Linked DNA regions of Homo sapiens. The protein of the gene in region 1 purifies or fractionates together with the protein of each later gene. This does not show direct contact. Each region holds a gene or a part of one and is shown on either strand. Other genes may lie near its edges. The genes, in order: PITX2, AHCYL1 and AHCYL2.

The links.
Region 2: the proteins of PITX2 (region 1) and AHCYL1 purify together in Homo sapiens (affinity purification with mass spectrometry; 4 studies listed by BioGRID and IntAct, with this or other methods). This does not show direct contact.
Region 3: the proteins of PITX2 (region 1) and AHCYL2 purify together in Homo sapiens (affinity purification with mass spectrometry; 3 studies listed by BioGRID and IntAct, with this or other methods). This does not show direct contact.

The regions. Positions count from the first base shown.
Region 1 is NC_000004.12:110,620,012-110,630,660, reverse strand, and holds the start of PITX2 (pituitary homeobox 2), read left to right. Parts: upstream 1-7,583; 5' UTR 7,584-8,200; coding exon 8,201-8,405; intron 8,406-9,027; exon of another isoform or gene 9,028-9,062; intron 9,063-9,291; coding exon 9,292-9,497; intron 9,498-10,649. UniProt on the Homo sapiens protein: May play a role in myoblast differentiation. When unphosphorylated, associates with an ELAVL1-containing complex, which stabilizes cyclin mRNA and ensuring cell proliferation.
Region 2 is NC_000001.11:109,977,062-109,987,927, forward strand, and holds the start of AHCYL1 (S-adenosylhomocysteine hydrolase-like protein 1), read left to right. Parts: upstream 1-7,703; 5' UTR 7,704-7,991; coding exon 7,992-8,111; exon of another isoform or gene 8,112-8,482; intron 8,483-10,866. UniProt on the Homo sapiens protein: Multifaceted cellular regulator which coordinates several essential cellular functions including regulation of epithelial HCO3(-) and fluid secretion, mRNA processing and DNA replication.
Region 3 is NC_000007.14:129,218,008-129,228,465, forward strand, and holds the start of AHCYL2 (adenosylhomocysteinase 3), read left to right. Parts: upstream 1-7,022; 5' UTR 7,023-7,069; coding exon 7,070-7,432; intron 7,433-10,458. UniProt on the Homo sapiens protein: May regulate the electrogenic sodium/bicarbonate cotransporter SLC4A4 activity and Mg(2+)-sensitivity. On the contrary of its homolog AHCYL1, does not regulate ITPR1 sensitivity to inositol 1,4,5-trisphosphate.

The DNA.
Region 1 (10,649 bases):
TGGTCGTTCGCTTTTGATAACTAGCACATAAAGAACTAGAAATAATGAATGATTGCTTTCTTAACCATTACTTTCAGGCCCGCATTGTTTTAGTGCACGTGAAAGGCTCTTCCCCTACACTCAATATGTCTTTTTCTACTTTTTGACCGAAAAGAAAAATTGCTGCCTAAACACGTTTAATGCCATTAATTAAGAAAAGGCATGTAATGGGAAGAAATGCTGAAAATCTTGATTTAATTGGCTTTTAAGGAACTAGTAGACGACAAAAAAAAATCACACGAGTGGGCAAAGCTATAGCACTGCTGAAGGATAGAGCACCTATCCTTCCCTGATTTTAAGTTAACTTATGGAATATCCAAAGTCCTGGCCACAGCCTGCTTGTAAAACAAAAGGATTTATTTCTTGTGTTTTTTTAAAGTTTTTCTTTGCTTTTAAAGAGAAAAAAAGTTCACAATGACATATGACTTCTTCAAAAGGCCGTGATAGTCTATTACGCTACCCTCTCCGCCTCTGCCCCCAACGCCGCCCAAAAATACCATGTCCTCGTTAAAGACTAAACGTTCTGTATAGGCAGAGTCCACCTCTAAGCAGTCCAGGCTCTGCCTTCCTTCCCTAGTGAGTCCCATTCTCCTTGGTATCCATTGGGCGGATGCCCAGCCTGGATAGAACCCCGAAACGGGGGTAGCACGAGAGCGACTGGAGACCCCTAAAAGCCAGAGGTTTGAGAGAGGGTGGACGCAGCTAGCAGAAGATGGTGTAGAAGCCAGCTGAGAACGACCCCCTAGAGCAAAGAGACCTTTCTTTGGCTTTTCTTGCTTTGGGGGTCCTGAAAGGAACTCATAAAATGGTCTTCACCCTCAGGAGGAGGACGGACTGACCCTCCTCTGTCACTGGCTTAAAAAGTTTCAGGGCGGCGGCTCTGGGTTCCGTGCTGAAATCGGACTGCACTGCAGCCCCTTTGGACCTGACGCCTGGCTTTGCGTCCCGACAAGGGGCGGGTACTTCCCCCGGCCTCCCCCAGGAACGCATTAATTGTTAAATAGCTTTGGCCCAGTGGATGGGCTGAAAGTGTTCGACCCAAGTCGCTGGTGTGCACAGACTTCCTCCCTCTGGGAGGTGGGCTCCATGGCCCGTTGTGGCACCCCCAGCCGCGACACACACCTTCACACGCGGCAGCAGCTCGGTCCCAACCTTCTTCGAAGGACCTGGGTTAACCCTGGCGGCCTTGGCGGCCGCAGACCCCTCTCCGCCGCCCCGCCCCCGCGCCTCTCATTCAATCAGCGAATGTTTGCGGAGCATATACTACGTGGACTCCTAATGTACCCCCTGAAAGCAAATAATACAGTTTTCCTCGCCGTCATGAAGGGATTTTAATCCTAACATGGACACCAGCGAGATCAGCCCAGACCGTCTCTAGCAAAACGCAAAATGGTGGTGCGTGGGGTGGTGACCAAGGTCCTGAGCCTTGTCAGAAAGAAGGGGATGTGTAGAGAAAGGTGGAGAACTCTAGCTGTGGCTAGCGCGGAAGGGACAGGTGCTTGCCGAAGGGGGCATGAGGCTTGAGGAAAAAGCAACGAAATAGGGGTAAGGAGAGTTTTCCATTTTCTTTCCTCCGCCCGACCTCCGCCATCCCATTCTCCCCTCCCCTCCCCCACCCCCCGCGCCAATCAAATCTGCAGCTCACTTGAAAGGTGCCCCGCCGCGTTGTGGTTTTTCACCCCCAGGGGAAATTGTACCAGTTGTCCGAAAGTAGTCAGTCCCTGCGGATCCCTGCCCGCAAAAGTGGTCTTCACAGGTCGCGTTCCTCGCTGCTGACTCGGTACACAAAGTTTCTTAAGGCTGGTTCGGCTGTTATTCCTCACCGCCCGCTGCTAATATATGCAGCAGTTGTTAGAGCGGCTCGGGGGAAAAGGAAATGTATAACGAAAGCTTATTCGTGAGCAGGAATATACTAATGGAACAATCTGATGTCTTCTTAATCCTATGTAAAAAGCTTTGTCGTCTTCCTAATATTGACTGAATGGGTAATTAATGGCTCTTCATCTAGGCGAATACCCTGTAATCCAAGATAGGCAAAAGACAACAAGCCCAAGGTAGAAGACAAAAGGCCCAACTGCAGCGGCGTTTGCCCGCCTCCTACCCCCCAGGGTCTCTGACTAGGAAAGTTTTCTCTCAGAGGAGAAAAAGGCAGGAGTGGGAGAATATATACCTATCATTTCGGGGCTAGACTTCACCGCAGCACCTGACCACCCAGCTCAGTTTTCTGTTACTCTGTCTTTCCACCTCCAGTCCTTCTCCCTGCATTTTTTTTTCTTCTTAACTCCTCTAGGATGACCTCCTACCACCACCGCCATTATGGTCCTAATAACCTTTCCCCCTAAACCCCACATCTTTCACTTCAGCAACCAATGAGGCTGTTTTCTGATCCAGGAGGAGATTCTTTTCTTTTAGAACCCAATGCGTAGAGTCTTTGAGAACTAAAGTAGTTGGTAGGGGAGGAAGAAATTAATAGAAAGGGAGAGAGCATACAGAATTGTGTGTGTATGTTAAAGAGCGACCAGGAATGACAGAGTCAACTTCTTTGTGAGGATCTGACGGGAAGAGTGTCCAAGACTCTACCAGCATGTTTTTAACAGGCTGACATTTTAATTTAAACCTTTAGAAGTAATATATTACTTGGGTTACTACAATGAGGTGGGTTCCTTTTTTTTTGTCAGCTGACAGCTTTTAAAATATTATTTCGCTAGGGAAATAAAAGCTTCATCTCAGATTATAGGTGGGTATTTTTGGATTTAGGTGATTTATGGTCACCATGACAACTAATGCTGAATGTTAGCTACCAGCATGTCTGGGAGAGAGAAAACAGAAAGAAGGGAGAGCAAAAGAAATAGAAAAGGGAGATGGACATAAGCTGGAGAGGGAAGAAAAGAGAAAAAGAGGAAGACAGATGAGTGTTTAATCCAACTGTTGTTTAAAAAAGTGGCGGGGGGGTGGGACTTCATTTAGCCCCTTGCCACTTCCTTCTTTCCTGACCTGGATATCTATGCTCAATTTCATATTCCACCCTTCCTTCCCCTTCTCCAAACACATGTGCTATACCATTCTCCTTATTTTACTTAGTTCGGCAAGTAGTTGCTTTCTGGAGACTCAGTGACACCTAGGAAAACTGTGGCAGTAACATGCAAATGTGAGGAAGCATTAACAGCATGTTCGTTGAGTGATTTTAGCAAATGCCCCCTCCTCTAATCTCTTTCTCTTCTCTTCCCCAGGCCACTGTGAGGTGGTAACTCCCACTGCCATCTGAACACTGTTCCCCCAGGTAGTTACCCCAAATCTCAAATGGTTGAGCAGCTAGAGCTGTGGGTTGGAAAAATGGGTACCATTTGCAGGGACCCAGAGAGGGTGGCTGTTGCTCAATATATCTACAGACTTCCAATTCAGAAAATAATCTTCCCCTTTTGACAAGCCAGAGCTTTTTAAATTCCATTTAGGAAATGGGGAAAAGGACAGCTACAGTGAAGCTTTTAATTTCTGGGTTATTTGGTTCCATAGCTATGAGGGGTGGTGGGTAGTGGACTGTTTTCAGCTTGGTTTGTATGCAGAGAAAAGCCAGATATTGGAGGGGGTGGGGCACTTCTCGGGCAGGATGCAAGGTCTCCATCTGACCTCTGCGCCTTACCAGGAGCTCACACACTCACGCCCATCACGTGGCTCCAAGCTGAGTCCAGGCGGGCCTCGTCCTTGAGCTAGCTTGGGCAGGGCAGGACTCCCACCCGTCTAAGGCCTAACAGCTCAGGGAGATGTCTAATTAAGCCATCTTCTGGGTGAACTCTGAAGACAGACTCTTTCCAAAAGTCAGAGATCACTTGGTTGAGTCCCAGGCCAGATTGATACGGAGAGTTTGGCGGCACAGCCCAACCGCTCACTGCCATGGCCAGAGGGACTTTGCACAACTAACACTGAAGAGTGTGAAATTAAATAAGACTTTAAGACTGGTAATCGGTGGCAAATACCAGCACAAAACACGGCTGACCCCATGTCACACATTTCCCTCCTCTAGGGTCTTTCTTTGAAAGAATAAGCAAGAAACCCCAATCGAGACAACCCCTGATGTCTCCCAGACTCAAAACCTCACGCCGGCACTGGGCTTTCCTTCTTTGCCCCACGTGAGCCATGCAGCACCTCTAGTTTCCCTACCAGGATCCCACCAATGTTCTCCGTATTGGAAATTTCTGTGTTAGAGGCTGAACTCATAGTAATTTCTAAAACCAATTAAGAAGAACTTAGCCAGAGGTCACAGTAATGCTGGAATCACAAAATGCATAAGATTTATTTTCTTCTGGCCCCTTTCTCATCCATGCTGCCTATGCCTGTGCACCCACAAGTCTTATGTACATTAAATCTCCAAAATCAACCACCACCATGCCACAGAGTTTTCACTGGACAGTGTTTCTTAGTTCCCACCACATACCTCCTTTTCCCCATGCAGACTTATCATGTTGGTGTCCTGCCACACAGGGGGCCTGAGAAGAATGTCACCCAATCGCCGCTGCTGTGAGTGTGTAAAGTGATTAGGAGATTAGGAGAATGTTGAAACTCCTGCTGGAAAAATGCAAAGAAAATCCTCACTTTGAGTCAGTTGTTTACAGAGCCAGTGTGTGTGTGCGTGTGTGTGTCTGTAATATAAAATGGATGTGAATATATATATACAAATAGATATGGTTTTGCTTTTACTTTAATCTGAATTATCTAGATAATTGTCTTTATTCACCACTTGACTTCAATGGGTCCACACAAATTAGGACACCTTATCTTTTTAGGCATCTAGGCTGCTGCTGATCCCCAGTGCTTCCAACATCTCGCACACGTTGGCACTATGAGGAGCAGTCACGTGCCCTTGGGTTTTTCAACCACTTTGGAGGCTGATTGAGGTCCTTCATACATGTATATTTGTCGTGATGAAAGTTCCATCGGTAGAGTGGAGCCACCAGAGCTTTTATCAAAATTCTGTGGGTTTATGAGAGATGGGTTTAGAAATCTATATGGCTCTGTGGGGCTTCTCGGCTTTCTAAAATAAGGCATTAACACCCAAGCTTCCAAAAATATTTGCAGCTCTGGGGTTTGAATCTTGAAAAACAAGGAGTGAGGGGCTGTGTATACTAACTACAGTGGAGATTTTTTTCATTCTTTAATGTGATGGAGTCCCTTCATGAAATGAAGCTTTAAGGGGCATGGTATTGTGGGGACCACAGCTATTCTGAGGTTTAAAAGAAGAAACTGGAATATGATTAGTAAACACATTCAGCAGAAAAGAGCTGGATTCTTATTGACTTAGTTATAGGTCATCGGCTGGCAGTGCAATGGGAGGAAATATTTACTTTACACATATACTTTATGATCTTGGGGGAATTAGAGGAAATTCAATAAGAAAACGGCTAGAAACATTTAAAACCCTTATTTAAAAGACTTAAGCAAATTAGAGTCTTATCAGATTAAAAACCACTACAAATGTAAGAGCATTGTCTTCAGTGAAACGCTGTGGGGTCTGAGAAGGAGATTCTCCGCCAAATCTCCGGGATAAAATGCGTCATTTAAGCACCAGATAATGAGCAGAATGTAAATTAATTTAACCTTCTTTACCAACAGGCTGCTAGTGTAATGTGTATAATTTAGTGATAAGATTGCAGGACCTAATATAGCTGGATGTATGAGCCTCAGCTAATGCAGACCTGTCACATGAGGATGTGTTTTACTCTGAGCAGGTGTCTGTATGTGTGGAATGGGGTAAAGTGGAATAAAAGGTTAAAAGCAGAAATGCTGATTTAAAGCTTACTATGAAGAAATTCCTCCCTTGCAGCTAAATTATTCTTAAAGTGGGATGATACTGGTGAAGAAAGACTGAAAAACAATTCTCATGTGCGTCTTTGGACTGCAAGTTTAAAATGGGGAGGAGTTGCAGATAGGGTTTGGGGGTGGTCAGGGCAAAGGAGAGACACATAAGTTGCAAATATATTTGTAGTCTGCTTCATCCACTTTGTTCCACATCGAATAAGTTTCCCAATCTTGTGAACAAGGACAAGGAGGGAGTGTTTTAAAGATACTTCATGCTGGCATTGCAAATCATTGACTGTAATGTCAAACAAATACACATTCAGAGATGATAACACTAACTCCATAGTAAAACAATCGCCCATGCAGAAACCCAGAGGAGATTAGTTTGTCCTCTCCAGCTGACCTATGCTGGGGGACAAAAGGACTTTCAAAAATTATTTTGAATATGTTTGGATTTCTTTCTTTAATTTCTTTGGAAATTAAATTTGCTTGGAAACAGTGCTATAAAGAGTTGATGTCTCCAAAGGTGATTTTTTTTGTTTTATATAAATAAGGTTTTGCTTTTGCTAGTTGAGCGCAGTTCTAGGCTTTTCGCCCTTAGCTCACACACACCCCTTCTGCCTGCTTGGACTTTAATGGCTCAAGACAGCCTTGAGCTCACTGGGAAAAGAAAATGACTGTTAAAAATTATCCTTGAAATTGGTTATTTGGCAACATTCTTAATTGTATGGAAATTCATTAAGGCATATTTCATATATAATTAGCTCAAGGTTGTTGATTCTACAGGCTTTATGGATTTAAATCTGATTGATAATAAAGTAAACAAGAGAGTCGAATTTAAAGCGTGGCTCTCTCGGGTTAGGACGAGCTTAATACAGTGTACAAGGAATTTGAAAGATCTAGGATATGTGTCTTAATCAACGTTAAGTAGAATGGATAAGCTTTCAGCATTTTGAAAACGCTGGGTTAGGGTTTCTCTTCTATTGTGTGTTTTCTGTCTGGGGACTAATAAGCATCACAGAGAACGTGATCTGAGGCGACTTTTTATTCTTGTATAAATCCAGAGTGAACCACCAAACAGTTGTTCGTTTAAAGTCAAGGTAATTTTCTTTTGACGGGTCCATTTGCTTCTCGATTTCTAATTTATTAGCCTGCCTTTTCAGGGCTCTGTCTTCTTTGCAATTAAAGCTTCTTCAGATTAGCGCAGCATTCACTTGACAGGCTGTTTGGAAAATTTAAGATCGGAGAGGTGATTTGTTGCTGTTTTTCAAATTTTCTAGTTTTAAGTAACGTGTCTCCTTTTTATATGGGGTGGGGGATTGGAAATGGATGTAGTGAGACACAAAGAGTGGGTGTCTTGTTGATCCTTGTACCTTTCTCTTCTTGACCATTCCACTCTCTTCTCCCAAGCCTTCGACTCCTAGCCTCATCTCTTCACCTTTGGGTTCGTACTAAAAGCCGGATCGCCTTGGGCTGGGCAGGAGCTGAATTCCCGGGAGCTTGCCTGTGTAGACCCAGTGCGCACGGCGAGGCAGTAGCCCGGCCCCGCACTGCTGATAGGTGCAGGCAGGACAGTCCCTCCACCGCGGCTCGGGGCGTCCTGATTGGTGCGGAGCCACGTCAGTCGCACCCGGAGAAGGGTCTGGGAGGAGGCGGAGGCGGAGAGGGCTGGGGAGGGCCGCGGCGGAGTGACGTCTCGGCACCAGGAAGCCCGCCTCTGGTTTTAAGATGTTAGGCCAACAGGGAAGCGCGGAGCCGCAGATCTGGTCCGTCGCTCGCCTGGGTGCCTGGAGCTGAGCTGCGGCAAGGCCCGGCTCCTGTTCGACCGCCCGAGGGGTGTGCGTGTGCGCGTTGCGGAGGGTGCGCTCAGAGGGCCGCGTCGTGGCTGCAGCGGCTGCTGCCGCCGCAGGGGATCTAATATCACCTACCTGTCCCTGTCACTCTTGACACTTCTCTGTCAGGGCTGCCGCGTGGGGGGGGGGCGGGCAGAGCGCGGTCGGCGTTAGCTTTCCTTATTGGAGGGGTTCTTGGGGGAGGGAGGGAGAGAAGAAGGGGGTCTTTGCCCACTCTTGTTTCGCTTTGGAGCTTGGAAGCCTGCTCCCTAAAGACGCTCTGAGTGGTGCCCTTCTGCCCACATCCCATGTCTTCGTTTGCCCGCTGACTTTCCGTCTCCGGACTTTTTCGCTTGAGCCTTCCGGAGGAGACGGGGGCAGCTTGGCTTGAGAACTCGGCGGGGGTTGCGTCCCCTGGCTCTCCCCGCAGCGGGGAAACTCCGCGCCTAGAGCGCGACCCGGAGCGGGCAGCGGCGGCTACGGGGGCTCGGCGGGGCAGTAGCCAAGGACTAGTAGAGCGTCGCGCTCCCTCGTCCATGAACTGCATGAAAGGCCCGCTTCACTTGGAGCACCGAGCAGCGGGGACCAAGCTGTCGGCCGTCTCCTCATCTTCCTGTCACCATCCCCAGCCGTTAGCCATGGCTTCGGTTCTGGCTCCCGGTCAGCCCCGGTCGCTGGACTCCTCCAAGCACAGGCTGGAGGTGCACACCATCTCCGACACCTCCAGCCCGGAGGCCGCAGGTAAGGCGCCGCGCCGCCCTGCAGACATTCCCGCTCAGCTGCTCTGCGCCACCCGCTCCCTCTCGCCCCAAGGAAGTCAGCCCCTCCGGGGGGAGGCGTGGTGGGAGTGGTCGTTCGCCTGGCTCCCCGCAGAACTTCCGGGAGCCGGAATTTTGACTACCCCGCATCCCTTTAGTTCTCCCTCGACCGGCCCGGCTCCTGGGGCGCTAAGGGCGCGAGCAATTCTGCCGCCCTCTCTATTCGTACCCTGGCCTCCCTTCTGTTTCCTGGGTCACAAAAATCCCAGCATCTTGATTCGAGGACCTTCAGAGGCCGCCGACCTCTGTCCCTGTTTTCCTCTCGGCTTTCAGCTCCCGAGGAGCTCCACTCGTTAGGAAATTGCCTGAAACCACTCAGAAATGCCCTTCGCGAAGAGGCATTTTTTTTTTTTTTTTGGGAAAGGGCCGGCGAACTTCGGTGCCCAACCGAATCCCCACATCTTTTCCTAGCCTTCCCAAACCGCATGGAAATCTGAGCTTTCTGCGAGGGGGAGGGGGGTCTGTAAACCACGCGCGTGTGCGCGTCCCAGGAGATTTGGTGTGTCTGCGCAGAGGTGTATAAATATACTTGAAAGCACAGGCTATAAAAGTGAATGTGCCGCTGCAGTGAGATAAACATGTAAATAAAACGTGCGGCGCTGGGGGAGGGGAGGAAATGGGGCGCGGACACCCACACTTGCGCCTGCACACCCCACAGGCGCAGCGCTCCTCGCGGCCCGGAGCCGCCGCGCGCACCCTCCTCCGGCGCCAGGCAGCCCAGCTCTTCCACGGCTTCTGCCGCCGGTCCAGTTGGCGTCCGCGTTGCAGGTGGGCATGCTGACGGGAAAGTGTGTGTGTTTCGTTTTCAGAGAAAGATAAAAGCCAGCAGGGGAAGAATGAGGACGTGGGCGCCGAGGACCCGTCTAAGAAGAAGCGGCAAAGGCGGCAGCGGACTCACTTTACCAGCCAGCAGCTCCAGGAGCTGGAGGCCACTTTCCAGAGGAACCGCTACCCGGACATGTCCACACGCGAAGAAATCGCTGTGTGGACCAACCTTACGGAAGCCCGAGTCCGGGTAGGAGCCAGCACGGAGTCTGGGAGGGATGGGGGGAGGATGTTGTGGAGGTACAGGCCAAGTAGACCAGGAGAGAATGTGGAAGGCAGCGCCGCCTGGGAGGGCGCCGGTGGGGCGCAGCTTTGCAAAGGCAGAAGGCCTCGCGGCGGCCTGGTTGCGAGATTACAGTTCCCTCTCCGAGGCCGACAGGACTGCCGCCCTGGCTCAGGCTCCCAGAGCGGCACCGGCTCACTGCCCCGCCATCCCGCGATCTCACGAGCTGGGCTGCATGGGCAATCCCCTGCACAGGACATTGTGTTCCTGGCTTGCAGTTGCCAGAGCAGAGCTAATAAAATCCCTACCAGGCCAAGAGCCGCGAACAGGCTCCAACCTGTGAGCCTTTAACAAGGAAAACCCGCCAGAGACACGGAAGAGTTGGCCCTCCCTGGGAAACCTTTGTCCCGGCCCTGGCCCAGCTTTTTCCCTCCTGGGCTCGCGCTTCTTACACCTTCTTTACGGTTGTTTCGGCCATTCAGGTCTCTCCCACACACCCTATTTCCTAGTTTTGTGATCTCCGGGAGCAAAGTTTTAATACACAACTACTAGTCCTCTTAGAAGGAGAAAGAAAAAAAGAAGAAAGACTTTTCTGCTTGGTTTATTTATCTTCTCTCAGGAGTTGAACTCTGGAAATTGAAACTCACACCCCCTCTTCTAAATTATAATCATAGTTTTGTAAAAAGGGCTTACCTTAACTTTGTAGCAAATCTGTACTTTATGGATTGGCAAAAATGAGCTCAAATAAATAACCCAATAGCAACGTCCTGGTTTATGCTGGTCGGTGGAAGATTCCAAATTTGTTAGGATTCTGGAAGCAGAAAACAGAATCAAGCAAATCAAGCGGCATCCAGAGGCTTTGCTGTTAAAAAAAAAAAATTAAGTGCTCTGGGTAGAAAAAATAAAGCCCCCGGTTAGAGCAGAGCAAACAAAAAGAAGAAAACAACGATAAAAAGAATAAAGACCAAAATGCTCTCCCAAATCAGAGGGAATGAAGACACTCTCTGGGTGGCATTTGTGCAAGGCATGAGGCTATGCTGGTGGATAAAAGGCCGGGAAGAAGTTGAAAATGGTTTTAGTTTAACTGTCCAGAGCCAGAGCTGGGTCCTGGGCGGCGTG
Region 2 (10,866 bases), on another chromosome or scaffold:
TTGCTCTTGCTGTTCCCTCCATCTAAAGTCAGTGTTCCTCATGTCCGCCTCTTGAAATCCTAGTCATCCTTTAAGATTCAACAAAACCAACTCTCCTTCACAAGCCTGCCCCATTCCCTCTACGGGGAGCGTCTTTCTTTCTTCTTCCACGGGCATCTTCCGCCTCTGACTGCAGTCATCTGGACACATTTTGCAAGCTCCCTGAAGGCAAGGGCTGGGCCTCATTCATCTCTGCATCCGCCACGGGACCCAGCTCAGGATCCTGCAAGCTATGGAGCAGCCAAATGTTTGTGGAACTAAAATTGGGACCTGGGCCTAGGCTTGGATGAAGTTTCGGGCTATTTCAGGCCCTGGAATGGGTGGGGCGATGAAGGGAATGTTGGGGTTGGGAGATAAAAGACCCGAGCGGGAATGAGGCTTGGGCTTCACTGACTGGAACAGCCTCTCCATCCCCACCCCTTGATGTCTCCTCATCTAGCCCGAACAGAAACAGGGAAACACTGTGTACTTGCGACTCTCTTCCATCAGTCTCTTGAGCCCTTCCAGGCCCTCACATCACCCACTCCTTCCCTGAACCCCTATAAAGAGGTCAAAGGGCCAAGCGGGTCTGCAGGAAATGGCTGAAGGGCCTTTGTGGAGAGGCCAAGGTCCAAGCTCCTGGTTCTGGCATGAGATCCATCGTTGCCGTTGGTCTAAAATATTGTGTTGACCCTCCGTCAGGACTCTGTGGAAGTGTGGAAGTGGCATGAGCTCATGTTGGAGGCTGAAGAGCTCTGTCCTCACTGCTGCAGAATGGGACAAATGCTGAGGGTGTGGAGGACAAGGCTTAACTCTTTCCCCGGGGAAGAGGCCAGGCTTGCGTTGTGCATGTGGAGCCTTCAACCCTTAAAAGGCTGTCCAGGCAGAGCTCCTGGAATCGTGGAGGAGAAGGGAGGTTTTCAAGACCAGGGTTGAGAGGCATGAGGAGCAGCCTTGGGAATCCAGGTTGGTTGCAGGGAGGGCTTGAGAGGGTGAAATGGTTAATGGTTTGTTGAAAAACAGGGAGAGTCCCTCCTCCAGGGGCCCAGCTGGCTGCAAAGCCAGGAGCAGAGACTCCAAGGGTGATGCAATGGGGCCCGCCCTGCACACCAGAGAGGGTGAGGAAGGCAGGCTCCCACCCCGCAGCAGCCTCCGCACCACCAGCAGCCGACCACTCTCCTCTGGCTCCAGCAAACCAGCCACAGGCCGGGCCCTTCAGGGCAAAGGGGCAAGACCCTGAGCACCTGAGCTTTGGGAGATGGCAGCTTCTGTCTGTTCCACTCCATCAGCCCCAGAGCCTTTCCAGTCAAGACAAATCCTCTACTAGCCCCCAGCAGGCATCCTGAAGGAGTACCCACCAGGATATCAAACCATCCTGGCCACCTGTGTCTCTGCGATTCCAGGACTATTTCCAGTCCTAGAGGCAGGTTGCAGGTTATGGGTAGAGAGGCAGGCCTGGGAGAGGCAAAGACAGGCAGTGTCCTCCCTTATCCCAGAAGCTGACACTTACATCTCACCAGCCCACTCACCATTGCCCTGGGGGAGCACATCTGCCAGGGAAGCAGTATCCCAGAAGCTTCTAAAAGACTTGGGGCTACTTCAAGGGTGGGTCAGCATCTCTGAACTCGGGAGAGAGACTGCTCTTCCTTCCCTAGCATGGGGCTAGACACAGCCTCAGAAGCAGGGAGAGGAAGCATGCCACACACTCTGGAAGACCGCTCAGGGTGGGGCACATGGAGACAGCAAGGAGAGGGTGTGCCCTCTCAGACAGTACTGGGAACCTTGATTTTCTGACAAAGCTCTGCTATGGACTCTAAGCCCCATGAGGACAGGAACTGTGTCTGTCTTGTTTACTGTGGGATCCCTGGCGCTCAGCACAGCTCCCGAGACAAAGCTGATGCTCAGTAAATAACTGACTGGGCAGAGGCCAAAGTCCAAGGCCAGTTTCACAATTTCTACTTTTTTGGTAAACTCTTCACCATCCCCACCTCCATCCTCCCCGCTCCCATATACACACTTAAGAGCAGGAAAAAACATACAAAGTAGCACAAACAGTCATCAGAACAGATTTCTTGAACATTGTTTACAATTGGTGGATGCCTTCTCAGTATGAACTTTAATGTGTGGCAGCTTTGGGAACTGAAGTAAGATACATCAGGATCTCTGGTCCAACCTAGAAAAAAAGCATGTGAGGAAGTTCCAAGGGGCTGCTGGTCACACAGCCAGACCCCGGGGCCAGGTTGGGCCAGGAAAGCAGCAATTTCTCATGGCTGGGGCAGTGTCAGCCCTCCCTTTTGAGGAAACACATCCACATGTCAACAAGTACTCAAAACCAGCAATGACAATCCTTTCCTGCAGCAGACGGGTTTCTGCTTATTCCTGTCATTCCGGGAAGCGGAGCGAAGAGAGAATTCCAAATTCTCAACAATAGCTCCTTTGCCCTCCATGGTTAGCCTGGACCCACATCTTAGTACCTTACATTTGCACAATATTTGCAACTTGTTCAAAGCTTTTGCATATTTATGATCTTACTGGATTAGGTCATTACAAGCCCCAGATGGAGAGCTATCAACCTGTCTTGCATGAGGAAGAGGAGGTCAAAAAAGGTCCAGGATGCCAGTGGCCAAGTTAGTAGCAGAGTGAAGATTTGAGCCCACATCTCTGCCCAGTTTTCCTGCTTCCTCACACCATGCAGCCTCGCCATGAGTCAGCTATCACGAGTTCCAGACACAGGACCTCAGATCCTCTAGGGCCAAAAGGTGCCTCCTTATCCTGGTCCTTGTTTACAGTCATTATAACTGCCCCCACTACTTACATTTTTGCTCCCTTTCTCTGGCAGGAGCTGGTGCTGTGACCCATCTTCGCCTGTTTTGCTTGAAAGCCATCCCCACACCCACTCCGAAACCACCTCCCTCCATTCCATTATATTGCACTAGTTGGAAACAATTCAAATACCGAACAATAGGAAAACAGTTAAGCAAACTCATAAAGCAATATGACAGAAAGCTTGGAAAACATGGACAATAATAACAAGTATGTCAATGCTCTCCGTTCGGGTCATGTGTTTTTGAAATATTGTAATTTGATCAAAGCAGAATACAAAAGGACATGAACCTACCAATCACAGGTATGTAAAAATGAGTTTCTGCAAATTGCTAAGAACTAGGAGTGAACTTAACAAGATGAAAAGAAATTTTTAAAAAATCTTCATGGATTTTTCTTTCCTATAATGTTCAAAATGATAATAAAGAGTAAGTGATCCTAATAAATATGACAATAATAAGCAGAGGGGGAGACAGAGAAGGAGGAATGTTTTCCCACTGGAACTGGAGAAGGGGAAGGAGAAAAGGCTGAGGGTAGGGAGGGAGGGAGCTCGGTGGGAAGTAGGAGCCAGGAAGCCTGAGGACCAGCACCCACAGCCACAGAGGTGCAACCGGGAGCCCACCCTCTGGGGGTCCCTAAGGGCCAGCGAGGTAGGTGACCAATCTGAAGTGGTGCTCCAGGGCACCTTTCACAATAATTACAATGTCAGTGGTGCCTCCTAGAGCTGTGCAAGGTAGCAGTTCTGGGACAGAAAGAAGCCTGGAGCTGGAGGGTTTGCCCATGCTGGAGAGCTAGAGACAGAGCCACTGCCCTCTTCACCTTCTTCCGAACTTCCATTGTCACCCAAGATCTCTGCAGTTTTTCTGCACTTTCATTCCAGAGGGCTAACATAACACCTGGCCGACAGGAGGTGAAAGGCCTTCAGGAGGAGCACAGCCTCCCCCTGGTGGGGAGCCTGACTGGCAGGGAGCGGGCAGTTCCAAAAGGTGCCAACCTGGGCTCCCCTGAGACTCAGGGACAGTGCCCTCCACAGACATATCAAACTCAACATGTCCCAAGCTGACTCCTCTCAGCAGCCCCCCTCCACCCCTCTAGCCACACTTGCTTCTCCTCCTGTGCTCCCCAGCATGGCAGACATCACCACCACCCACCCAGGGCTTAACACGCCCTGCAGGATCTGGCCCTGGCTTCAGCGCTCACTTCACCCTGCTTTGCACCCTGTGCCCCACCCACATGGGGATATTTACAGTTCCCGTAATATGCCAAGCTGTTTCCATCACCATGCCTATTCTCAGGCTGTTTCTTCAGCCTGGAGAATCTTCCCTCCCTTGCCCAGCTGCTTATCTGTCAAGACTCAGCTCTGGCAGCATCTCCCTCTGTGTCATCCCTTTGCCCTCCACTGCACCCCACCCCCATCACCTGTCCCCACGTAGAGATCAGCACCTCAGCTTATTTATCTCTGTAGTCCCGACTGACATCTAGCCCTGCTGCTGGCACTTCTTCGGCACTCAATATATATTTTATAAATAAAAGAACAAATGACTGAATGTAGAACATCAATTTGGGGGTGGACAAACAGTGAATCTGATTAACAAGACCAAGCCCACGTGTGGTAGCCCAATGCCACTACATTTCTGGTGACAGCATCTCCCAATTCACCACTGCCCTTAGGCCACTCCTTTCTAGCAAGGGTCTTCGCTCCAGGCCCTTGGAGACTTCCCACCACCACACACAGCAGGTGCATCTGTCTTTGGGTCCCTGTTCTTCTCCAATTGCCCCGTGGGGGGTCTCTCACCTGTGTGTGGATGCGCTGTTCAGGGCAGTGAGCTTGCCAGTAGAGGTGCTGAGTCAGGTGGGTGGGTAGGCTGAAGACAAGTCATCTCTTGGCATTCATGAGAAGCAATCGCCTTAGCTGTGCCATGTGAGGCTATCTTAGGATGGGTTTTGGGGGTGGGAGACAGGATGCAATGATTCTCACGGATGTTATGTTGTCACACTCCCTGGCTGGGTGAGCTCTTTGCTCTCCAGCACACACGTGATGGAAGGGATGGCAGCCACCCATGCCCCCTGCAGTGGCTGGTTTCCAAGAATGTCCCGGGCCCCTGGCCTCACTTGAACCACATAGGCCTAATGCTTTCCACCAGGGTAGGGGGTGCTGCCCTTCCCCTTTCCAGTCTGAGTCCCCGAACTCTCCTACATCAGCTCATCAACCTCCCCTCAGGCCAGCCACTCAGGTGAGTGGAGTCTGACCTGCTGATCTCCTTCTTAGCCCAGACTGCTAAGGTACTGCATGCTCTAGGCCTGGCCCTGTCTGTCATCCTCTGTAGCAGCAGCAATAGCAGACAACACTGTGAGCCTGGTGCTAGGGCAGACCTGGTCCAGGAGGAGTAAAGACTGAACTTCAATCTCCAGGAAGCTCACAGTCTGGATGCTTAAATGCACAGCAGAACTGGGGGACTGAGAGACAACATGTTTAGACAAAGTGAGTTCTAAAAATCAAATCCAAAAGACAGATACACTGATGCTTCTCTTTAAAAAAAAAAAAAAAAAAAAAAAAAAGATCTTCTTAAGTCACACATTTTTCTACTATAGGGACTTGAGATTTCATCCCTGGTTCCAATGGGTTCTGCCTCGAGTCTTTGGGCAGGCATCTCTGATCCCTGGGCTCTGCCAACAGTTTGGGCAAACCCACAAGGATGAAAGCCACTGTGAGCCTTATGTTCAGAGAGTCCTTAGTGCACCAGGTGTGGTTCCTGACCCCTAGCTGAAAGATGTCAGTCTGGCACCCTCATGGATGAACCTGGTATTCTGGTCTCCATCTCTGTTCCCGTTCTGCTACAGTGATGCCCCTGACAGGGAAGTGTGAGTGCTCAAAAAAGTGAGCAGATGAAAGAATACAAACAGTTCAAGACCAAGGTCTGCAGATGTGCAAAGGGTGCATTCTTCCAGGCACTTCTACAGCCCTTTTCAAACAGACAGTCTCATGAGGCTAGGTGGCTGGAACACAGGATTCCCTGACTAAGACTTTTAGGGCCCTAGAGGTGAATATTTCACACTCTCCCCAGCCCTGAACACAAATCAGTGGGGAAAATGCCATTTCAAACCAAAACTTCCTTCTTGAAAGGGTATGCCCTGTTAAAAACCTGGGAGGTTTCTGGATGTTAAAAGGTGGTCCTGGCCAGGCGCGGTGGCTCACGCCTGTAATCCCAGCACTTTGGGAGGCCGAGGCAGGTGGATCACGAGGTCAGGATCCGAGACCAGCCTGGCCAAGATGGTGAAACCCCGTCTCTACTAAAAATACAAAAATTAGCCGGGCACGGTGGCGCACGCCTATAGTCCCAGCTACTCACTCAGGAGGCTGAGGCAGGAGAATCACTTGAACCCGGCAGGCGGAGGTTGCAGTGAGCTGAGAGCACTCCAGCTTGGGCAACAGAGCGAGACGTCATCTCAAAAAAAAAAAAAAGGTGGTCCTGGGGAGGAATTTAGGGAAAGGGCACTGGGAAGACTGGAATTGCTCAGCACAGCAGAGGAGAATCTGGCTTCCCAGAGTCTATCAAGGAAGGAAGGATGAGGTGCAGAGATGGGAAGGGAGGAACAGGAGGAAGCTAGATTAGATGGCAATGGGCTAGGGAGCGTGGTGGGATCTTGTGGCCATTGAGAAATCCCCGGGTGGTAAGACAGCCAAAATAACTTTTCAGAACATTTCAGAAATGTGTTCTTAAATTGTTTGCTGTGTGATGTAATCTCTCCCCTGTGACCCACAAACCTTTATTAAAAGTTTTACTACATGTTACAGCCTTATTTTGTAGTTGTTTAGCATGGGGTGGGGGTTGAAAGGAGAAGCGGCTGAATTGACCCCAGGAGCTACAGAAACAGTCACAAGACCAGAATAGTGAATAAAATGCCAGACAAGGCAAAAAAACTAGAGCCAGAGGTGACCATGAAAATCCAAGTCCTCCCAGTAATGGACTTTCCACAGGACATGGTAATTGGAGCCAATGTCATTTGAATCTCAAAGGACAAGCTACCTCAGCTGACATTAGGATACAAGCAGGTTTTGCCTCTCCAGCTGAACTAAGCCTTGCAAAACATAAAATGCGTCACATGTCCTTTTGCCAGCAGGGCCTCAGCACAGGCACTGCACATAGTAGGCCCAGTAAAAGGGTGTGAGCAGTCCATGAATGTCCTGGATGCCCACTGAGAGCTGGAAGGGTCTAATGCTTTGGTGGAGCAAGGACCGGAAGGCCATTCTGGCTGGGGACTTCTCCATCAGCTCTCCTGGTCTCCACCCTCATACCCATCAGCCCTATCCCAATGAGGGTTTTGTAAACAGGCAAGGCCCAGTCGGAGATGGTGGTGGAGGAAGTCACAAAGCGTTGTGCAGAAACCAGACTACTCTGAGTCAGTTCTGCCCCCTATGAAGTCAAAAAGACAGGCACGGCCCCTTGGGAAGGAGCTTTAATCCAAAGGGCCTGGGGCTGGGCCAGTGAGTGAGTGGGCTGTCTCGAGCCCCGGACATTTCCTAGGAATCGCTGTAGGATGTGTCGTGTGGGGCTCTGGTCTTTGCTCCCAAACACCCCTTTCATGCGCCTCTGAGGCCTTGCCAGGAACCCCGCAGCCCAAAGACCCTCCGTTCCGCAGCATCGTTGCATGAACCTCGCGCTGCTCCCAGGGCTGATGGTGCCACCTGGTGGCACAAAGGGTCCTGCTCACCCTGGGAACTTCGCTCTCGAGCGGGAGAGGAACGGCTTCTGTGGCCCAGCCCAGCGTGGTGACGTCACGACAGAGTGCCCTTTCTCCCCGCCTCTTCCCCCTCCCGGGAGCTGCCAGTACTTGACGTGGCGTCACCGCCCTCTACCCTCGCTTTGCGTGCGTGTTTGCGTACAGCGGAGGTGGCGGCGCGGGCAGGTCGGAGCTCGGAGCTGCTGTTCTGGTTCTCTTGTGGCCGCCGTCGCTGTCCGGCTGCCTTGGGCTGCCGAACAGACAAGGCGTGGGCCACAGCACCTCAGAAGCCGACGCAGCTCGACGCAGGGGCCGGCAGGAGGGTGGGCGATCGCGTGTCGGAGGGCGCCGCGCGGGCAGGCGGGCGGGCGCCAGAGGGGGAAAGAGGCGGGGGCGGCGGGTCAGCCGCTGGCCGGGCCGGCCGGGGAATGTCGATGCCTGACGCGATGCCGCTGCCCGGGGTCGGGGAGGAGCTGAAGCAGGCCAAGGAGATCGAGGACGCCGAGAAGTACTCCTTCATGGCCACCGTCACCAAGGCGCCCAAGAAGGTGCGGGGGCTCTGGGTGGCGGCGGGGGCTCGGGCTCCGGCCTCGCGGAAGGGACGCGAGCAAGCCCGGGCTCTGGCTAGTTTGGGACTTCTGGGGGTGACTGGGGACGGCGGAGGTGATGTAGGGGGTGGCGGCTGTGCGGCCCCAGGCCTCTCCCGGGCTGAAAGGCCGCCTCTGACCTCGCTTTCCTTTGTCCCTCGGCCCAAGTCCTCCGGGATCGTTTTGAAACCCGACAGGGCCAGGCCTTAAATTTGCGACTGACTTTTCCTGGATGAAGGGCCTCGAAGACGAGAGTGGGAGGGGGTGAACCAACTCAGCTGACCCTTGTGACCAGTCCGGGGGCATGGGGTGTACAGAAAATCTCCCTTCAGGTGAGTGGGTAAATCTGGCAGAACTTCCATCAAATCTTTGGGAGCAGTGGCCGCTTTATCCAACAACTGCGTGATAGCTGGGAGGCAAGAGAAAAGAATGCGTGAAGCTAGCTCTGATATACAGGTGAAAGCGATGAGGGTAACATGAAACTGAAAATCTATGATTTTCACTTTCTACAGCATTCCAATTACTTCGAAATATGTAAGAAATTGACATTTGGAGGTTGGTGACAGCAGACACTGTCATGGATACAGGTGGATCCTAGAGTCATGTGAATAGATCACTTAGGCATCCCTGGAGAAAGGAGCTTGGGTGGGTTGGAGTAGTGGGTGGTAAGGGAAGATTGCTCACTCTTGACTGTACTTTTGAGGCAGAACAAGTTTGATCTATTGTGCTGTAGGTTGACTCAAAGGACACCCTTCGAATTCTCTCATAAATGGCAACCTTTGGAGATTTTAGTCTGACTAGCTCTCCGAGTGGTGGAATTGGGATCCTTATTGCTTTCTCATCATTTACTGCCAACCACATCTTGATTTTCCATACACCTGGCACCCAGTTAGCAGTAGACCAGAGAACCTTTACAAAGAGGTGACCTTCCTGAAGCCAGTGAGAACCCAGATAAATGTCTCCCTTCTTTATAAAGACAGAGTCTTACAAAGCTGTCTCTGCCTGCATCCAGTGTTTAATGGGATGCAGGGCTGAACAAAGCAAGGGCTGCAGGAATAGTTAAGTCCTTGAGGCTTCAACTAGTTAAGCTGTCTTAAGTGGGAGAGATGGCTCTTTTTTTTTTTTTTAAGTGAATTAACCTGCCACTCCAGAAATCAAATGCAAGATCAAAAAAGACGAGTCGCCATTGTGTGCTTTCGCTGTTTTCTCACAAAATTAAGAATTTAATTCCTTTAAAAGATTGTGGAAGATTCCTTGACTCTGAGGCATCTGATTAACTTTAGTGCTGAGAGTTCAGTTGACTGCTTTGTTGGGACAATGACCCTTTGCAATCTGCACTATTCTTTGGAGAAACAGTCACAGTCCTTATAAGCAGAATGATTGAGGGTGGGACCTTAGATGAGTTAGAGGAAAGAATGGGAAAGCCCTAATACCTGAATTTCCCAGACTCTGTCTTCTTTGCTGTTACTTGCCTTTATGTTAGTAAATCTGTATTCTTGAAAGTACCACTGTTGATAAGACAAAGTCTATATCGTAGATTGTAAAAACTCATTAAGGCAGGGATTCTTGTTCACCTTTGTATCCAGTGTGCCTAGCTTTGTACCCAGCATACAGTAGGTACTCAAATATTAATTGCTCACCTGGCTAACTAGTAACTGAGATGTCCATGTGGCCACCTACCATGAATAACTATCCCTTTTCCTCTCTTCTTCCCAGGAGGAATATTACTAATGTGTATTATTGTCAGGCCAAGTGCTGATGATTTTAGACTTATATTGCATTAGCTAAAAGAAGCAGGCTCTGCCAGGAATGTGGGAAGACCCTGTTTTAAGTTTCCATTTACCAGTAAATGTGCCCCACCGTGTTTCTTATTAATCTTTCTCTTCTAAGTTTTATTCTTTAGCATTTACGTAGTACTTTGTAATAAAGTGTTTCATGATGACTAATTACCCTTTCCCTAGTGATGATAAAAGACATTTATTAAGTTAATGGATCAGTTGAGGACTAGTCAAGGTCACATAGCAAGTCCTAGGCAATCTGTTTTTCAGAACTGCTGAATTGAACATTAAGACTTAAGTCACTTTTGTACCTCTGCCATGTGTTGATAACGTGAAAGCATGGGAAAAGTAAGAGGGAAAAAAGTAACTTGGCATGGTACTTAATGGTGTGAGAAAAAGACCTCTTCAAATGGTGCAGTCCTTCACCTATGAGAATTCTACCCTGGCTCTAGACCAGTAATCCTTGGATTATTCTGAAGCCCTGAGGCCCCTCAGGAATTGAGGATGTTCTTGATGCCAGAGGATATAGGTTACTTCAGGGTGACCTTGATGGTCCTCAGTTAGATCAGATCCCAGTGTCACTTTCTGGTCAGCTTTTATTCATTTTGTTTGCTTTGTTTGAGACAGAGTCAGCTTTTATTCATTTTGTTTGCTTTGTTTGAGATAGAGTGGATGTCCATCAATTAAAAGCATAAATATCTAGATTCTTCAGCTATAATCATGACTTACTCAGTTTTGTATGCCAAGGTCTATCACACTGCTATGAACAAAATAGGACTTGTTGGTTTGATTGAAGATTTGAGATGTCTGGGTGTCGAGAAGTCAACTAAAGGGATATGACCTTGAGCAAATTAATTAGCTTTTGTACCTGCATCTCCTCATCTGCCAAATAAGTGCCTATTTTTTTTGGAACAGGTGGAGATAGGGGCATGTTGGGG
Region 3 (10,458 bases), on another chromosome or scaffold:
TGTCCAGGCTCTTTCCACGCTTAATCCCGCCTTTGATTTTTCTCTCTATCCAGGTTTCCTGGTTTATGTTCCCTCTGGCCATCCCACATCCTCTTACACCTGCTCTTCTTGTTCTTCCCGGCCGTTACTGCTTCCCTTAGCATTGTTACAGCTATTTTTTAGCCTTTATCAACAACAGTATTTAAAATAATGAAAGTTATCAGTGCTGTTTAAGGATCTTTTCTGAAACAAAGGGGAGTGTTACAATGTTCTTCTTTTCATCTCCAAAGACAGTTGACTACTAGTTTTCCTCCCTCCTTCTATCCTTTCTTTAGTGGGATTACTTATGTAAAGGATGGGAGATGGGGTGAAAGGGGAGTTCAATCTGGGCCTTAAAAGCTGAGAAATAGGCCAGGCACTGTGGTTCACGTCTGTAATCCCAGCATTTTGGGAGGCTGAGGCGAGAGAATCACTTGAGTCCAGGAGTTTGAGACCAGGCTGGCCAACATGGCGAAACTGTGTCTCTACAAAAAATAAATTAGCCAGACGTGGCGGTGCATGCCTATAGTCCCAGCTACTCGGGAGGCTGAGGTAGGAGGACTGCTTGAGCCCGCGAGGGTCAAGGCTGGCCGAGAATGCACCACTGCACTCCAGCCTGGGCGCTGGGCTACAGCAAGCACCACCCTGTCTCCAAAAAAACAGCTGAGAAATGTGACATTTGTGCAGAGACTCTGTGGCCACTAGGGGGCAATGTGAGCCCACCTTTGTGAATGCAGATGTCCAGCACCATGGACACTCCCACAACCAAGAAATCTTCCAGTAGTATCCCTACGGGAGCATCAATCTCAGGACTGAACAACAGTAACCACCCTTCTACCAAAAGCTCCTGAGTGAGATCCCCAAAGAAACCCCTCAGGATCCAAGGGGAGCCTGGTTTGTGGGACTCCCAGTTTGGGGGACTCCCTGCTATGCTGTTGCCCTGAAAACACAGCTCCCCATGCGTGCCCCTCATCACAGGCTCTGCCCTCAGCTGCCTCATTGGGCCTCTTACCATTCTTTCAAATTCAGCTGGCCTTGCCTCTGTTTGTTCCAGCTTCCTTAAAGCAGTCTGTCCACTGCCCATCTTTGTTCCTCTGTGCTTTTTTTTTTTTTTTTTTTTTTTGAGACAGGGTGTCACTCTGTTGCCCATGCTGGAGTGTTGTTCCTCTGTCTTCTTTTTTTTTTTTTTTTTTTTTTTTGAGACAGGGTCTCACTCTGTTGCCCAGGCTGGAGTGCAGTGATGCAATCTCGGCTCACTGCAGCCTCAATTTCCTGGGTCAGGCGATGTTCCTGCCTCAGCCTCCCAAGCTGCTGGGACTACAGGTGCACATCACCATGCCAGCCTAATTTTATTTTTTGTAGAGATGGGGTCTCACTATGTTGTCCAGGCTGGTCTCCAACTTGGTCTCGGCCCAGGTGATCTTCCTGCCTTGGCCTCCCAAGGTGCTGAAATTGCAGGCATCAGCCACCGTGTTCAGCCTCTGCCTGCTTTTTTATTTTTATTTTTAGAGACAGAATCTTGCTCTGTTGCCCAGGTTGGAGGGCAGTGGTGCAATCATAGCCCACTACAGCCTCAAACTCCTGGGCTCAAAGGATCCTCCGGCCTCAGCCTCCCAAGTAGCTACAACTACAGGCATGTACCATCATGCCAGACAAATGTTATTAAAAACAAATTTTTTTTAGAGACAGGGTCTGGTCATGTTGCCTATGCTGGTCTTGAACTCCTGGCATCAAAGTGATCTTTTGCCTTGGGCTCCCAAAGTGTGGGGATTATAGGCATGAGCCACTATGCCCAGCCTACTTTTGTTTTTAAGAAATTGAAACGATATAGAAAAGTACAAAGAACAACCTAATAAACACTCATATTCCCACCACTCAGAATTATCAACTTTTTATCATTTTATCATATTTGCTTCAGATCTTTTTTTTTTTTTAAAGAAAAGTATAACAGATTTAGCTAAAGTACCCTTTGACCAATACCCCACCCCACTCTCCCCGCTGCTCAAAAGGAAAGCAAGCCTGGGCACAGTGGCTAGCACCTGTAATCACAGCACTTTGAGAGGTTGAGGTGGGTGAATCACGAGCTCAGGAGTTCAAGACCAGCCTGGTTAGCATGGTGAAACCCCATCTCTACTCAAAATAAAAAAAAAATCAGCTGGATGTGGTAATGCGTGCCTGTAATCCCAGCTACTCGGGAGGCTGAGGGAGGAGAATCGCTTGAGCCTGGGAGGCGGAGGTTGCAGTGAGCCGAGATCCTGCCATTGCACTCCAGCCTGGGCAACTGTGTGAGACTCCATCTAAAAAAAAACAAAAAACAAAAAACCACAAAAAAACAGGCTGGGCACGGTGGCTCATGCCTGTAACTCTAGCACTTTGGGAGGCCAAGGCAGGCAGATGGCCTGAGCTCAGAAGTTTGAGACCAGCCTGGGTAACATGGTAAAACCCCGTCTCTACTAAAATATGAAAAATTAGCTCGGCATGGTGGTGGGTGCCTTTAGTCCCAGCTACTCGGGAGGCTGAGGCAGGAGAATTGCTTGAACCTGGGAGGCGGAGGTTGCAGTGAGCCGAGATTGCGCCACTGCACGCCAGCCTAGGCAACAAGAGCGAGACTCCGTCTCCAAAAAAAAAAAAACAACTAGAAGTTCGAGACCAGCCTGGGCAACATAGCAAGAGCCCTACTCTACCAAAAACATTTTTTTTTAATTAGCCAGGTGTAGTGGTGCAAACCTGTAGTTCCAGTTACTTGGGAGGCTGAGGTGGGAGGATTGCTTGAGCCCAGGAGGCAGAGGTTGCAGTTAGCTATGATTATGCCACTGCACTCTGGCCTGGGCAGCAAGAGTGAGACTCTGTCTCGAAACAAAAAACCAAAGTTTTCTTCATATGTCTGGTGACTTTGGTTGTCTGTTCATACTTAAGAATGTGACACTAAATTGTTCACGGAAGCTCTGTGAACATGAGTATGGTCTTCAGGGCGGGTGATCTGGCTGGCTTATTTCCTTTGGAAACTCTCAATGTTAGTATCTTTGTTTTCTCTCTTGGATTGGTCAGATACCTCAGAGAAATTCTTCTTTTTTTTTTTTTTTTTTTTTGAGACACAGTCTTGCTCTGTTGCCCAGGCTGGAGTGCCGTGGCGCAATCTCAGCTCACTGCAGTCTCTGCCTCCCAAGTTCAAGCAATTCTCCTGCCTCAGCCTCCCGAGTTGCTGGGACTACAGGCGTGTGCCACCACACCCAGCTAATTTGTGTATTTTAGTAGAGACGGGATTTCACCATGTTAGTCAGGCTGGTCTCAAACTCCTGACCTCGTGATTTGCCCGCCTTGGCCTCCCAAGTGCTGGGATTTCAGGTGTGAGCCACCGTGCCTGGCCAAGAAATTCTTCTTTATTGGCCGGGCGCGGTGGCTCAGGCTTGTAATCCCAGCAGTTTGGGAGGCCAAGGCGGGCAGATCACGAGGTCAGGAGATTGAGACCATCCTGGCTAACATGGTGAAACCCCGTCTCTACTAAAAATACAAAAAATTATCCGGGTGTGGTGACACGTGCCTGTAGTCCCAGCTACTCGGGAGGCTGAGGCAGGAGAATTGCTTGAACCCAGGAGGCAGAGGTTGCAGTGAGCCGAGATCATGCCACTGCACTCTAGTCTGGGCGATGGCACGAGACTCCATCTCAAAAAAAAAAAAAGAAAAAGAAAAAAAGAAATTCTTTTTTATACCAATGTCCTGCATGGACGTTACATTCCTGCTTGCCAGCGTTCTGGAAGCTGAATGAGCCGGGTGAAGGAAGAAGACCTGTAGTCCAAATATTTCATTAAATAGTTCATAAACTGGTGCTTAATTACCCTGTTTCTAGTATGTAATTTGATCTTCAACTGTACCTGGTGTCCCTCAGCTACAAGGATGGCAGAAGCAGCAGGTATGTAGGGATGGAGTTGACAACAGGTTGAAGAATGTGTCCTGATGGTTGGCCCCAATCAGTGGTGGTGACTGGAATAAAACAGGGTATCAGTTTCATTCCAGTGCTCTAACTCCTTATATTTTATAACCACATCACACTGAAGAATTAATTCATCCTCTCAGTAATCAATTCTAGTGGCAGGTAGGCAGCTGCTGCCTATGAGCTCCAACACATGCCAGGTGGCTGTACCGTAGCTCCCTTGAGCATTAGGGGGAAGAATGAAATCAGTTACAGAGCTGCTAATCTCTGCTCCGACAGCTGGAGGATGAAGCTCTGGGCTGGTTTCTTTTTAACAGGAAGGAAATTCTGAAAGCCGGAATGTGAAGAAAAAACTTAAGAATCTCTTGTGTCTTGTGAGCTCTGTGGAAATGGCAGTGCTCAGATGCCTTCCGACATGTACTGTGAGGCACAAATTTGGAGATCAGGAAATGAGAGCCTCCATTCAAGGCAGGACAACCACACAGAGTGAACAGATTTCCAAAATAGTAGGACAGGAAAGAAGATCGAGGCAGGTGATTTCTCTCCCTTCTCCTTCTTTTTTTTTGAGACAGAGTCTTGCTCTGTTGCCCAGGCTGGAGTGTAGTGGTGCAATCTCGGCTCACTGCAACCTCCACCTCCTGCGTTCAAAGGATTCTCCTGCCTCAGCCTCCTGAGTAGCTGGAACTACAGGCAGAAGCCACCACGCCTGGCTAATTTTTGTATTTTTATTAGAGATGGGGTTTCACCACGTTGGCCAGGCTGGTCTCGAACTGCTGACCTCAAGTGATCCACCCGCCTCGGCCTCCCAAAGTGTTGGGATTACAGGTGTGAGCCACCATGCCTGGCCTCCTTCCTTCTCCTTGCCAGGCAAAACACAGTGACACCAAAGACTAGATGTCTAAAGAGTAGCTGTCCAGTGGCTGCCTGGGTTGTTAGGGCTGTAAGTCTCTGAAACAGCTGTAAACTGTATGAACCCCTTTGCTCCTGTTTCTCTGAGCATAGAGAGGAACCCCCCCCATAATCTGTCGCGAGTCAACTGCATTTTGTTTTTTTAAAGTATTCTTTTTTTTTTTTTTTTTTTTACGAGACGGAGTCTTGCTCCGTCGCCCAGGCTGGAGTGCAGTGGGGCGATCTCTGCTCACTGCAAGCTCTGCCTCCTGGGTTCACGCCATTCTCCTGCCTCAGCCTCCCGAGTAGCTGGGACTACAGGCGCCCGCCACCACGCCCGGCTTATTTTTGTATTTTTAGTAGAGACGGGGTTTCACCGTGTTAGTCAGGATGGTCTCGATCTCCTCACCTCGTGATCTGCCTGCCTCGGCCTCCCAAAGTGCTGGGATTACAGGCTTTTTAAAGTATTCTTTACATAAAATCTTATGGCATGTGCAATTTTGTCTCTTGCTTCTTAGCTTAATGTTTTTATCATAAGCATTTATTCTGAAAGCCAGAATGCCTTGATCTTCTTTCCTGTGCTATTACGATTTTGGAAATCTTCACTTCGTGAAGTTGTCCTGCCTTGGAGTCTCTCATTTCCTGATCGCCAAATTTGTGCCTCACACTATGTATCGGAAGGCGTCTGAGCACTGCCATTTCCACAGAGCTCACAAGTGTACCAGACACAAGAGTTTCTTAGCTTCCTCTTCACATTTTGGCTTTCAGAGTAAAGAATGAAAAAGGGAAAACCTTGTTGTTAAAAAGTATTGGCAAACAATTTTCTTTCTTTCTTCCTTTTTTTCTGGGACGGCATCTCACTCCGTTGTCCAGGCTGGAGTGCCGTGGCATGATCTTGGCTCACTGCAGCCTCTGCCTCCCAGGTTCAAGCGATCCTCCTGCCTCAGCCTCCCAAGTAGCTGGGATTTCAGGTGCCCGCCACCACGCCTGGCTAATTTTTGTATTTTTAGTAGAGATGGGGTTTCACCATGTTGGCCAGGCTGGTCTTGAAGTCCTGATCTCAAGTGATCTGCCGGCCTTGGCCTCCCAAAGTGCTGGGATTACAGACGTCAACCACTATGCCCAGCTGGCAAACGATTTTCAAAGGCTGTAACAATTGCTCTATTTGTTGGACATTAGTTTTAGACAGTTTTTTGTTATTAAAAAGGACGCTGCGGTGCATGTCTTTTTGCTTACATCCTCTAAATGTAAAATTTAAAAATAATACAGAAAAGTACAAAGTAAAAATCACCTTAAATCCCATCACTTAGGAAATTAACTACTCATATTCACTATTCATATCCCTCTATGCTGATATATGTATCTGAATTTCAGATGATTGCCCTATTAGAATTATAGGTGAAAAGATTTGGCCTCGTTTAAGGCAACGTGTAATTCCTCAGCCTTGAATTTTGATCTAGTGATACCTAACTTCTTTGAGGAATGATCTTAGCTTCCAAACCCAGAATGTGACAGAAAGCGCCACAGCAAGCAAGGTCCTACTTTATCCCTTCTAAAAACAAAGCCACTGAAGTTTGGAAGGGTGTTGAGTTCTCAATATCACAAAGAAAAATAAAGCCACTTCCAGCCTGGAGCCGCCGCTTCTCCTTTAAATACTCGCTCACGTGATCGCAGACGGGCACGCGCGGAGGAACTTCACGCTGTCAGGACAACGAGCCATTCCTCTACCACTTCCCCTCCCCTAAGGCTTCTTGGCGTTCCCTCCCCGGAAGTCACAACTCCTCTGGAGACTTTCTCTTCCTCATCCCCTCCGTCGAGTCACCTATCCTCACTCCTTTCTGTTAGCTGCCGGCCCTAGCGCTCCCTCTCCTCGGCTGAATCTCACTTAGTGGAGGAAAGGCTGAAAGGACTACAACTCCCAGGGGACGCTGCGGGCCCCGCCCATGGGGCGCGCAGTGTAGGTCGGGGCCTGAGGTCCCACGGTCTTCTCGCCGCGTGCGGCCGGGAGCAAACGCACTACAGGTTCCGTGGCGCCTCGCGCGAGGCCAGACCGGGACGGGGCGGGGCGGGGCTGGAGGGGCCGGGACTGGCGGGCGGAGAAAGGGGGTGGGAGAGGAGGCGATGGAGGGGAGGAGTGGGGACATGGGGGAGGGAAGAGGAAGGGAGGTGGGAGGCGGGGCCGACCAAGAGCAGGAGCTGGAGTCTGAGCCGGTGGTTGCAGCGGAGGCGGTGATGTCGGTGCAGGTTGTGTCAGCCGCGGCTGCCGCCAAGGTGCCTGAGGTGGAGCTGAAGGACCTGAGCCCCTCCGAGGCGGAGTCGCAACTAGGACTGAGCACGGCCGCCGTGGGCGCCATGGCCCCCCCGGCGGGCGGTGGAGACCCTGAGGCTCCAGCTCCCGCCGCGGAGCGGCCCCCGGTCCCCGGCCCGGGCTCGGGGCCCGCCGCCGCTCTCAGCCCCGCCGCCGGGAAGGTGCCTCAGGCGTCGGCCATGAAGCGGAGCGACCCACATCACCAGCACCAGCGGCACCGCGACGGCGGCGAGGCCCTGGTCAGCCCCGACGGCACCGTCACCGAGGCGCCGCGCACAGTCAAGAAGGTACTGGGGCCGGGCTGCCTCTCTAGGAGAGGAAGGGAGGGGAGGGGAACTGCAGATCCTCTCGGCACGGCGGCACCACCCTCCACGCCCTCCTTTCTGATCGCAGGACCGGAGATACCCCTTGTCCCCTTAAACCCACTCTCTCAGAGATGCCCCCCAGCCGGCCCCTCGTGCTGGGAGCGGAGACTCCAGGAGGCACGGCCGTACTTCGCTCTGAATAACATGGAGGTAGCGCTCTCCCCTACTACTTGGAATAGGCAGCGGGAGGAGAGACACCTAATAGTACGTCCCGCGGCCCCAACACGCTCCCGGGTGTGATTTTCCAGCCTATCGGGGAAGAGACCTCGATAGTATAGAAAAACCTTACCGCTCACGGGAGTTCACACAGCAATAAGGATGAAAAGATCTTTAATACTTGGAGAACGAGTAAGGTGTAGTCACCTTGCATAGAAATCGTCAGAGTTGTCTGGTTTCCATACAGTTGATGACTTTCTGCCTTTCTGTGGCCAACCGTGGCCATACAGCAACACGATGCTGTGCCCTTCATTTCCAGCGACTGCGATATTCTCTCTTCCCTGAATATGTAAAAGGGTAATGGAGAGATTCTCCTCACTCTTTCGTGTTAAGAGCTTTGTCCTCCCTGCTGGGTATAGTTGGTCACCAGGATTATTAGGCTGTGTATGAAGAGAATGAATGTCTTATTGATTGCTTTATTATAATCTGAAAGTGATAGGAAGAAATGCTGCTACTTTTGGGAAAGACGATCTTTGTGGGGTTTTCGGTCTTAGGCGTCAGCTTCTTTCAGACAGTTTTGAGGAGGTCTCAGAATACCAAGAAGTAACTGCCTAGGTGGATGATAGCCCTGTATTACCCGTACATTGTCTATCCATAGTTGTCTGTCTCTCTCAAAGCTTGTCTTTCTTTCTCTCTTAAAGCTGAATCAGCACAGAAAAACAGGGCAAGTATTGGAAAAGACAGAAGTGTGGATCATATAAAAAGGGCTTACAGCTTCAATTTCGTAGACACAGTATGGGCACAGGGATTAATGTTTTTTTTAAATTGTTGTGAATGGTTTTTAATTGCTTTATCAGAACAGCAACAAAGAGACGGGAAGTGTGCATTGGTTTTACTGTGTGGGACCAGCTGAATTGGAACCTTGGATCCACCATAACTTTTTGTTGTCATAGCGTCATGATTAAGGTATAGCGGATAATCCTTTCATCCTAACGATACAAATTTAGGTGATAAGTCAGAGGCAAGACTGAAGGAATTTCTGTAATGCTTTAGACAATGTCTTTGTCGTTTGTAGTATGAAACTCCTCTGGGAAGAATTAGAGTAGAAAGAGGCAGCATCCTGCAGAAATGGGTTTAAAGAAAAAAAGTAAAGTAAAAAAGAGAGGCAGCAGCAGCACCAGTGCTGGGAGTACCTAGATCTGAGTCTGGAAATCCAAAGCATACTTCTGACTTGTTGAGATACTTTGTATCGTTAAGTCATTTTCTTGTGATAAAGACTGTTTTTGTCTAAACTTTGTAATTTGGTTAGATTTCTTTAGGCTAAAAGTGTTTAACAAATTGCTTTTAGAGCATGAAGTTTACAGTCAGGCAGACCTGGATTTGAAGCCTAGTACCCCCATTACTACCTTTTGGGTAATTTCCAAATTACACAAATCAGTTTCCTCTTCTATAAAATGAAAGTACTAATTATGATTGAGGATTAGAAATATTTGTAAAAGGTTTAGCATTGAGCTTGGCACATAAAGTCTTAAATGATATTCTTACTAATGCTTTTATTATTATGAATAATTGATTTTATTTTATTCCTCCCATCATGGCTTAAGTGCAAGCCCCCATGACCACCTCTGAAAGTTACACACAGTTCAATATATTCTATATAAAGAAATTAAAAAATCATGGCTCACGTCTGTAATCCCAGCACTTTGGGAAACCACGGCTGGTGGATTGCTCGAGTCCAGGAGTTTGAGAACAGTCCGGGCAACATGGTGAAAACCTCTCTCTCCAAAAAAAAAAAAAAAAAAAAGAGCCGGGCATGGTGGTGTGTGCCTATAGTCCCAGCTACTCAGGAGGCCGGGGTGGGAGGATCACCTGAGCCCAGGAAGTTGAGGCTGCAATGAGCACTCTAGCCTGGGTGCTGGAGTGAGACCTTGTCTCAAAAAAAAAAAAAAAAAAAAAAAAGTTAAAAAATCAAAGACCAGCATACTGGAGTCTGTTTTTCTTAATTCTAGATGTGCTTCTTGACCACTTTCCTTGTCGTTGAACCATCTTCCTGTTTTTTCAGCACCAAATGTATGTTCCATGATTGTAGATATACTCAGCAGCCTCAAGGCTATTGTAAAGCAGGGCTGAGCTTGCCTTACAATGTTAATTGCACCAAAAAAACAACTTCTCTGCTGAAAGTTAAGCAGGTGAAGCTCTGGGCAAGGATACAGCTGGATGACGAAATTCAGGGCATTGCTGAGCTGCTTTTCAGGTGCCCAATCTTTAACCTTCTTGATATTGAATTGGCTAAATCAAAATAAGTGCCCAAGACTGCCCTTTCCCTAAGTTGAAAGTCATCTCACCAAGGAACTGCAGTGTGACATTTTGATTTGTTGAGCCTTTGTTGATTCTTAGATTGTCTATGTAAATAACCACTTTGACCTTGACTCCTTACTGTTTTTCTTATAGCATATGAAGGAACTGAGAATACTAGTATTGAAATAGCTGCCTTTGGCTGTGGAACTGGTGACTGTTGCATTTGTTTTTTAACTTTCATGTATAAACATTTATTTTAAGTCACATTTCCATAGATGGTTTTCCTTACTTCATTCACATATCATCAGTTTTCTTAGTTTTGTTACTCTGCTCAGCCACACAAGGGGAATAAACTTTTTACAAGAGCCAGAATTCCCAAGTGCAGTAGTTAATAAGAAGGAACATATGGTGTGCAGGTTACTCAATCACATCTTATCTTTGGCACCTGCCTCCGTCCTGTAACTTGCGATGCTCTGGGGGCCAGATCATGTTAT